Homo sapiens: one gene and its partner. The protein of the gene in region 2 interacts with the protein of the main gene of each other region in a pairwise test. Each region holds a gene or a part of one and is shown on either strand. Other genes may lie near its edges.

Region 1 (4,565 bases), on a different chromosome or scaffold from region 2:
GCACTATTTTATGTACTAAGATAATGCCAATTTATGAAATGTCAGTAATTACAAATGTTTCCCCTAAGATCCCTTCAGATGACTGTATACTGTATTCCAAATAATTAACCTGTAAGTTCCCCAAAACACTTTTCCTGCCTCCCTCCCACTCCATTTGCCCACTATCAAGAGCAGAGCCCTAAAGCCCTGATTAGTGGCCACTAGGGAAAATATTAACTGTAATATCTATTACATTTCAATGATGTTACTGTTCTAAGCAGCAGAAACTGCAAAGTAATTTCTGAAATCATACTACCAGATAGAGAAGCTAAAGAATTTCAACCCTGCCCTCCATTTCTCACCTTTAGCAATCAAAGAAGAGTTCTGGGGTAGGAAAGTTGTGAAAAGTATTCACTATTTAACTGGGAATGACAACTCAAGTTTTATTCCTAGTTGGTTGACCTTGACCAAGTCAACTAACCTGAAAATCTGTTTCTTGATGACAACTGTTAAGGTCTTTTCTAGCTCTGAAATTTCATCACAGAGGGCTGGGATCAGTTTAATATAAAAGGTTGTCTGGGCCGGGTGTGGTGGCTCACACTTGTAATCCCAGGGGTTGGAGGCTGCAGTGAGCTATGACTGGGCCACTGCACTCCAGCCCGAGTGACAGAGTGAGATGCTGGCTCTATTTAGCGGGGTGGTGGGGAGAGGTTATTTCCAAGTAGGTCAAACCAATATTCAGCTCCAGTGGTCACAGGGGAGACTGACTACACTGCCTGTAGTGCCTCTCTTTGGGTAGGTTGTTTGAACACGGAAGCCCTGTCCCAAAACCCACAGAAATACTTATTTTCACCATGGCTTACTTCTTTCCTATGTACATATCCACTCTTGTCTTGTTTGCAAAAAGTATATGCCAAAACACAAGAAATTAGCATCTGTGCAGATGCTTTTTAAAAGTACCTAATAATTCTTAACAATCAACCTATTTTAACAAGGATTGGTCCCTCTGTTCAGGTACTTTTGCAACTCTTAGGCTATATGATATAAATAGAAAAAAATCATCACTTGATGTGTTTTTGCAAAGTAACAGGTAAAAACACTTGTTTTTTTCCCTGGAGAGCTTTGTGGCTCCAGACAAAGAATAAATATTCAGAAGTACAAACTTTACAGGAAAAGACAAAATAGGCCAGGGCCATGGGCATCAGATTTGGACATGGTAACTGAAAATGGACTGAAATTTTCCCAATGCTGAAAAGCAGTATGGTACATGAGGTTATGAAAACAGTGATCCCGAAGCCCCTCTCTCAAACTGAGGACTGAACCTGGAACAGTTACAGGCTTCTCTACTTTCACTAGCTGCTTCTCTAAGGGGCCAACAAAAGTGGCCATGTCTTATTTAATGAACCTATCACTACAATAAAAATGTCACAATTCAGAAAACATTACTTTTTACAGACTATCATAATCTGCTGGTCACCCTTTCACTCTGTCAGCTTATCTATGCCTCATTGTCACAGATACAAAAAAGGAAAGCAAAATTTGCCTTTCTAGGTATCACCACATTGCAGCCTTGGGGAGTGGGGAGATAAGGCAACAGGGTGAATAATTAGCAATGCTGGTCTCATCAAGCTCATTAAAATGTATAATGAAAATTTTGCCCATCCCCATTTCTTTGTTTCTAACCTGAAATTTTTTCTCTCTCTTTTTTTAAGAGTCAGGATCTCGCTATGGGGCTGAGGCCAGCCTTGAACTTCTGGGATCAAGTGATCTTCCTGCCTTAGCCTTCTGAGTAGCTGGGACCACAGGCTCATGCCACCACACCTGGCTCTAACCTGAAATTTTCAATATGATCATAATAACCCCAGCGTGTGTTAACCTACAGATTGCTCCTTAAAACTCAATTGCTTTAGCAGCTTTTAAGATCCTCCCCATCCCTTACTACTCACCTTTTAGGCTGTATATCATTCCAGCCCTAAGCTCCAGAGAGCCTGGTTCAAATGGACACTACAGTTTTTTCCATGCGTATTTAATGCTCACAGAACAAACCCCAATAGACCACAACCTTCACTCAGACTAACACAGCATTCTACTTGCCTGGCAGGTTCACAGATCATAAATTCCTCAGAAATCAATCTGCAGAATAAAGCAAGGACAACACTCAGAAGAACCCTGCCTAGAACCTAAATTAAAAAAACAAATCAGCTTTTAAGAGGACACCATGTCCTTTGCTTGGGAGCGCAATGCGACCAAGAAAGAACTAAAAGAGAATATGAAGTCCTCTTATTTAAGATATCAAACCAAAAATCTTCAGGAGAAAAAAAAGTTAACTGGTCTCATAGTAATAAAATGATCCCTTATCATGCCAACGCAAACTTTGATATGTTACCCCAACTCAAACAGCCCACGGCTGGTAAAAGATTTCTCCACCTGCGCAATGCCACAGGGCATTGCTAAAAACAAAACCCTTTTACACATAAAAAAGCCCCAAGATTTTAAAGCAGGAAAGAGGTAGGCTTATAAGTAAACCTACAGAGAGTATTAGATACAAATATTATCTAGCTATTTCATACTTTGAGAGTGAGCAGGGGGCAATAACTGACTACGCTTTGTAGCCAAAGAAAGAGAGACCATGTTTCATATGTGTTTGATTTTTACCTTTACCTGAAGTTCTCCCTGGAGACACAGAAACACGACTTTTTCTTGTACGGTTTGACTGCTGGGGTGTAGGGGAATGCCGAGTTTTGGGTGGTGGAGTTGCAGGAGGTGATGGCCTGTGCCTTCGCCTTGGAGGACTTGCTGAAGGAGATAACCTACGAGTTTTCCGAGGGGGGCTGGATGTCCTCTTGGGAGGCTTCTTTGGTGGTGACCGTGAACGAGATGAAGAGGATGATGAGCTACTCCCAGACAAGGATGCTGACGAACGTCTTCTTCTGTGGAATAAAGTATTCATATTCACTAATTGCACACTTATAAAGAACGGCCTTACAGGTATGAACAGTTTACACAAAAATACAGCTATTTTAATCCGACTTTTGAGTTTATGTAGCTAAGCACATAAATGAGTCCAAAAGAATGGGGGAAAAAACCATAACCTAGGCCAGGAAACAGCTAGTTCTGAGATTAATATAAACAACTTAATCTGATAAATACTTCTGTCTGTGTTCTCTCTCCAGTTATAAAACTTGTCAGGTTGAATGCTATAATAAAATAACTAACTAGTCCTTCTGCCTTAGGAATGGTATTGGTGTTTTGGAGTTTGCATATAAAATTTGGGGGCAAGGTATTTTCCATTTAATAACACAATGTTGAGAAACCTTTAGGTTGCATTTTTAAAAAAGATGTGCAAAACTAAGAATTCATTTAGCTACATAAACTTAGAAGCAGGGGCCTCTCGAATTCTGCGGCAAAATTTGTGTTAAGTTCTGTTGCAATTATGTGTACCTGCAGAATTCACCTTTGGCGGAAGAATTCCTGAGAACCTGAAAAAAAGAAACCCTACCTTAAGTGTGAGATAAAAACTGGCTGAAAGGGAATCTTAAACAATCTGTAAAATATTGACTGCTAAATGGCTGAGTAAGCACAATTTAAACATGCTGTTTGCAAAACTCCAGTATAAGAAATAGCTGTTTCCACTAATCTTGTACTAGGAAGCACCAGCATTACTTTTCTCCTAAAAGGGAATTAGAAAAGTGTGATGCCTGAAAATTGACTGACCATTTACCTCACTAATTTCCTCTATGAGCACAACACATCAATTCTTTGCAACAGTAGTAATAGTTCAATATATCTTAACAACCCCTCCCCAAAGAAAATTTTCAAAATATGGGACTCTGAAAAACCTGACTGCAGAAACAAAGTAACTTTACAGAGCTTACTTGATTTTTCCCCTCTTTATTTCCAAATTGATTTGGTTCCCTGAAAAGAACTTTAAAAGACTCAAACAAAAAATTCTGTCCAAAATAACTGGAAGCTTAATCATCGGCATTTCTTCCCAAGCCAGGTGAAACGTATTGCAAGAAGGCACAAAAACTGCTACCAGTGCACTAGGACTCTACTTTGGGTAGACTTAGCCACTAATTTTTGTTTAAAGTGATATATCCAAGATTCAAATATTTTATCTTATGCTCATTTTAGAATGATGTAAAAAAAAGAACACTGGTACAGTTGGGGTTTTGAAAAATAACCAGACACTAAACTAGTAATAGCAATTATATCTATGGAATATAGATATATTCCCCCACGGATTATGGAAAACTTCCAAGTTATGCTATTTCTGTCTGAATTACTTATAAGCTTCATTACTTCTATAATGAGAATTTTCTGAGAATTTTATAAAAAATTCATAAAAATACTTTTCTCAAAGTATAACAGCAAATGAATTACTTTAATACTGGTAAAAGGAGCTTACTGGCCCTATAATCAGCTACTTTTCAGAAGCCAGTTAAAAGCCAAAGAGAAGGTGGCCAATTCTCTTACTTAGTATGATTTCTTGGTGAAGTCTAGAAGGGTAAAAGTTAACAGAAAAGTATCAATAAGATGAATTTCTCGTTTACTTTCCAACACCAGACTAGACACTTTTCATAACA
Region 2 (5,467 bases):
GGATGTGGGTTGGGTCCCAGAATCACCTGCCACCTGGCTGTGGACAGGAGGCTGGGGCAAAACACTGGCCAAACAAAAGCCCTTTATCAGCTGGAAGTTCTGAAATCTGATTCCAGAAACACCCAGAGCTGCTCACCTGCTCTGCTAGGCACAGGCTGGGTGCGGATGGACATCTTGTCAGGATACCCAGACGAGTGGGTGGGCAGCAGGTGCCACAGGAGACCCTGAGGGGGCGGGATGTCATGTCTCACAGCGTGGGTGGGGTCACCAGAGAGAACTGGTGTCTGCTCACCTGGTTGCAGCAGAGAAGTTCAAACAAGAGCCCTGACGTTGGGCAAACATCACTTCTCTGAACCCAGAGCTCACCTGCAGACTACAGACCTTAGGCAAATCTCTCTCTTTTTGCAGGCTTCAGTGTCTCTTTCTGCTAAAAGAGGAGCTGAATTAGATCAATGGACCCCAAAGTTTCTTTTATCTCATATCTCTCTCAGTGAGAAATGCTGAGAACAAAACCCCAATATATGTGTATTTATTTACAAATTACACATGCGCACTATGGTTCCAATATGTTAAGCACGTTATCAAACCTATCCCTCAGCCCTCCACGTGTAAAATGAGATCGGGTGATCCCTAAGGTCCTGTTAGCTCTATCTAATACTACACCTCTGTAGATCTCTGAGTTTTCTCATCTGTACAGTGTGCTTATGGTTGTATTGTCCTCATTAACAATTTATTCAACAAATATTTAAAGATGACCAACCTTGAGCCACTGTACTAGGTGCTGGGATACCGCAAAGAATGAGACAGGCATAGTCCCCATCCCCAGTGGTTCAAACAATTCTCCTATGAATCAGAGGAAATAACATTACTGGTTTTGAATATTGGCAATTCCATATGGTTCAGACTATTAGGTGTGAAAGTGATTCGATGAGGGGAAAGTGCTACAGTTCATGCATTCTACCAACATGTGTTTGGTCCCTGCTGCGTATCTGGGGGAAGAGATTCGTTCAACAAGGAGCTCATAGTCACAGTCCCTCTCCTCATGAGGCCTCAACCGTTAGGAGAGGTATGCTTTAGCCAATGATCGCCCAAATCCATATATAATTACAAATGTGTTGAAAACAGTGATAAGAAAGTAATGTCTGTAATGAGGGGTATGACTTAGTCTGCAGCATTCTGGAAGGATCCCCGAGGAAACAGCATTTCCTCTGAGCTCTGGAAAGTGGAGTAGGTATAAATCAGGCACCAGGGGAGAGGAAGAGCTTTCCTAGCAGCATGTGCAAAGGCTCCATGGCAGGAAGGAGCCTGGAAAATGTGAGTAACTAAAAGGAATAAGATGCAACTAAACAGAGGAAGTGAGAGGTGGTGTTTTAGAAATGGTCTCAGGGAGGTGGGCAGGAAGTGGACCATGAAGAGGCTAGAGGCCATGGCAGGGAGCTGGCTCTGTATACTTAAAAAAACATGGGTCCAGGCATGGTGGCTCACACCTGTAATCCCAGTACTTTGGAAGGCCGAGGAGGGTGGATCACCTGAGGTCAGGAGTTCAAGACCAGCCTGGCCAAAATGGTGAAACCCTGTCTCTACTAAAAAAATACAAAAATTAGCTGGGTGCGGGGTGGGTACTTGGGAGGCTTAGGCAGGAGAATTCCTTGAGCCTGGGAGGCAGAGGTTGCAGTGAGCTGAGTTCGCACCACTGCACTCCAGCCTGGGTGACAGAGCGAGACTCCATCTCAAAACAAAAACAAACCAAAAAAACACAAACAAGAGAAAGTGATAGAGGGCTTTAGATGGAGGGAGAGAGGGCTTACATGGTCTGATGTGCTTTTCAAAGAGGTTCTTCTGGGTCTATGTGGATAATGGATAAGAGGGGCAAGGAAAGAGGAAAGCAGTATTGCTGCAAGTGGTATGAGATGGGATTATAACAATGGCAGTTACTAAACTGATTGAACATAAAACAAGATGAGCAAAACAAAACAAAAACACCCCCAACCTTAAAACCCAAACCAGAATGACAGGAAGTCCAGCCAGGAGAGAAGAATATACTAGCAATCAGACAGACCTGAATTCATCTCCTGCTTTCATCACTTACACACCGTGTGATCATGGGCACACTGAATTAAGATGACATAGAGACAAAGCCGAACCAAATAGGACAATGCCGAACCCTGAAACAGTCATTAAGCAATTCACATCTACGTGTGTCTGTTCAAAACAAATAGTAAGAACCTCCGGACGCAAAGGTTTCTCATCTAGAGACTCCCCTGGTTGCTGGATTCCCAGGGCTTACCTCCCCTCTGTGATACCATTTTTTCCTCCTCTGCAAAGTGTCTTATCCTATAAACATGTTGGTTAAGAGCTCTGGGTTCTCATTCCAATTCTGACTCTTACCAGCCATGTGTCTGTGAGCAGATCATTTCTATTCTCAGAGCCTCTGTTTTCTCATCTGTAAAATAGGGTCTTGAAGACACCTCTCTTCTGGAATTATTATAAGTACAGAACTGGATAAGAGATGAAATGTGTTCAGCACAGGGCAAGGCACATAGTAACACAAGGCTCTTAGCACACACATTCCCACCACAAGTGAGCGTGCACACACACCATGAAGATGCACGCTTCAGGCCCAAATGGCACCTCTCTTTCTGCAGAAGTGGCAACTGTCTTCTAAATTCCTGCTCAGTTGCCTAAGCTTAACTTTTAACGAAGCCAGAGAACAGTGATCTGTTGGTATTTGTACTCAGCAAAGCTGTCCGACAGCGGCATCTAAGCTTTGGGAATCCAGCAACCAGAGGATTCTCCGGATGAGAAAGATTTGCGTCCAGAGGATCTTAATATTTGTTTTGAACAGACACACGTAGACATGAATTACTTAATGACTGTTTTAGGGTTCGGCATTGTTCCTGTATTTGGTTTGGCTTTGTCTCTATGACATCTTAATTCAGTGTTCTATTTCACAGAGCTCCGCACAGAGGCTGTAGCATATGGGAGCTCCCTCAGCAAAATTTCAAATGGAGTGGGGGGCTGGAAGGTGTGGGGGGACAGGTGCCGGGAGAGATACACAGAGGGAGAGAGACAGAAAGAGCAGACTGTAGCTTCAAGAGTGTGCAGTGGAGGGGGCTACTGGGTGCAAGGGATAGTCTAGGTTTGCATGCATGAATATGAGAGACCAAACCCTTGCACCGTGGGAACAAAATCTATCACTGCTATTTGGAAGTCTAAACAGCATCTTTAAAGTTTCCTGATGTGATTGTTCACAATCAAAGGGACTGTAAATTTCATGCTTGTCCATAACACATGGAGGGACCCAGCCAATCTTCTGATATTGCTGTTCAAAGTCATCACTGGCTGCATCAGAGTCAGGAAAGAGGAGTCAAACAGAAGCAGATCAGATCTGGAACTCTGCTTGAGAAGGCAAGAACCCTCCTGGGACCACCTCCTGCCCCCAGCCCAGGACCTAGGAATTTCCTGAACTGGCTTACAAGGCCCCACTTGATCTGTTTTCTGCCTGCATCCTGGGAATCATCTTCTGTCACTCTCCCATTCACTCACTCTGCTCTAGCCACACTGACCTCCTTGCTATTTCTCAAATACACCAAGCATCCTTCTACCTCAGGGCCTTTGCACTTGCTGTTCCCTCTGCCTCAAACACTTTTCTCTCACTTATCCTCACAGCTCACCTCTCCCTTCACTCAGGGATCATGCTGTCCAACAAAGCAGCTCATTCCCTCACCCTCTATTCCTTTCCTTGGCTTTATTGTTCTTTACAGAATGCATTACCACCAGCTCTCATTTATTTATTTGGTTCTTCATTTATTGTCTTTCTCCTCCACGGGAACAGGGAGTTCCTGTGTTCATTCACTGTTACGTTGAGTAGTGGTTCAATAAAAATGTTGAATGACTGAATAAATGAATGAAAGTACAACCTAATTTTTTTTTAGCCAACGTGCAGCTTCTTCCACTTTGTGTATTAATTCCCCTGTGATTAATTTTATCTTCCACATTTGCAGGCTCGCTATAATCCCCCCATCACTGGTGGTTGTTCATGGAATGCAGACTAGATTTCCTATTAGCTAGAGCTGGTCCATGAAGGACAAGAAGCCTAATAGCCCACGCCAGAGACTGCATCCTTGAGCTGGAAAATGTATATTATATGAGCAGCTCCCTTCCACGGCTCCCCTCCACTAGCGTTGACTATTCCCCCACAGTTAATGTTCCCCTCAGAGAGTTTAGCCTGCTTTCTCTCCTATTAAAAGAAATGGTATTTGAGACCCTGCTGGGGGCAAAGGTCTGATTTTCTCTGATCATTCCTTGTATTTGTAGATAACGTTGATGAAATAGAAGAATCATCCCCATTTTGCAGATCGGATAACTAAAAATAACTGTGTGACTATAAGCAAGGGACTCCATGCTTCATTAAGGGTCTCTCCCTTCGCTGTTTTTTTTTTACATTCCTCTGTCTCTATTTCTCCCTACATTATCATGCTTAAGACAATAATATGTTTTACAGTTTCAAATAGCTAGAAGAAAAATACTGAATGTTTCTAATAAAAGAAATTATAAATGTTTAAGATGATGGATATGTTAATTACACTGATCTGATCACTGTACATTATATGTATCACAACACCACTATGTATCCCCCAAATATGTACAGTTATTATGTGAAAACAAATTTTAAAAATTAAAAAGACTGTCTCCCTTATGAAATATGTACTTATGTTGTGTCTACCTTTTCTACTAAACTCTGAGGCCCTCACTAGAGGACATTCAACTTTTTTCTCCCCAATGGGCCTGGCAAATAGTAACGAAAAAACCTATCATTTATTATTAATAGCAAGAGCCAACACTGATGGAGCTCTGACTGGGTGCCAAGTAGCACTTTCCATAAATTAGCTCATCCAGTCCTCACAGCAGCTCTTGGAGGGAGCTGCTATTATTAGCCCCATTTTATGGATGAGAAAACTGAGATTGAGAAGGTCAAGCTGCTTGCCAAGTCTCATAGCCCGTAAGCATTTGCAACCAATAAAATAAAACACTTCCTTTGATTAGTGTGCCCCTGAGGTCCATCAAATGTTTCAAACAGCTCTACCAATCTCCAGTGGCTCTTTAGGGAGCACCAAAGCCACATTTAAAAGTGAATACAGAGCATTGGAGCTGCTCAGGAGTCCAGTCCACAGAACCCAAGCATCACTACTGAACAAGCGCAGCCCAGGTAGTAAGGGGCTTTAGCATCCCCCCTCTCTGCATCTCGTTGGGTAGCCCCTGGCATAGTACACAAGAGCATCTGCTTTATGGAGATCTGGGTTTGTACCAGGCACAGTGCCATGCTCTTTATATAAATTATCTCATTCACTCCTCACTACAACCCCAACAGAGGAGTATTTCACAGATGGGGAGGCTGAGGCACAAAGAGGTGAAGTGACTAGCGGGTCCTGCAGCTTGCACGTAGCAAAGAAAGATTTGAGCCTGG

The links.
Region 1: the proteins of SRRM4 (region 2) and SRRM1 interact in binary tests that used the Homo sapiens proteins (3 or more experiments, as listed by UniProt).

The regions. Positions count from the first base shown.
Region 1 is NC_000001.11:24,653,199-24,657,763, reverse strand, and holds part of SRRM1 (serine/arginine repetitive matrix protein 1), read right to left. Parts: intron 3,459-4,565; coding exon of another isoform or gene 3,421-3,458; intron 2,910-3,420; coding exon 2,635-2,909; intron 2,113-2,634; coding exon of another isoform or gene 2,101-2,112; exon of another isoform or gene 2,074-2,100; intron 1-2,073. UniProt on the Homo sapiens protein: Part of pre- and post-splicing multiprotein mRNP complexes. As a component of the minor spliceosome, involved in the splicing of U12-type introns in pre-mRNAs. Involved in numerous pre-mRNA processing events.
Region 2 is NC_000012.12:118,987,103-118,992,569, reverse strand, and holds part of SRRM4 (serine/arginine repetitive matrix protein 4), read right to left. Parts: intron 1-5,467. UniProt on the Homo sapiens protein: Splicing factor specifically required for neural cell differentiation.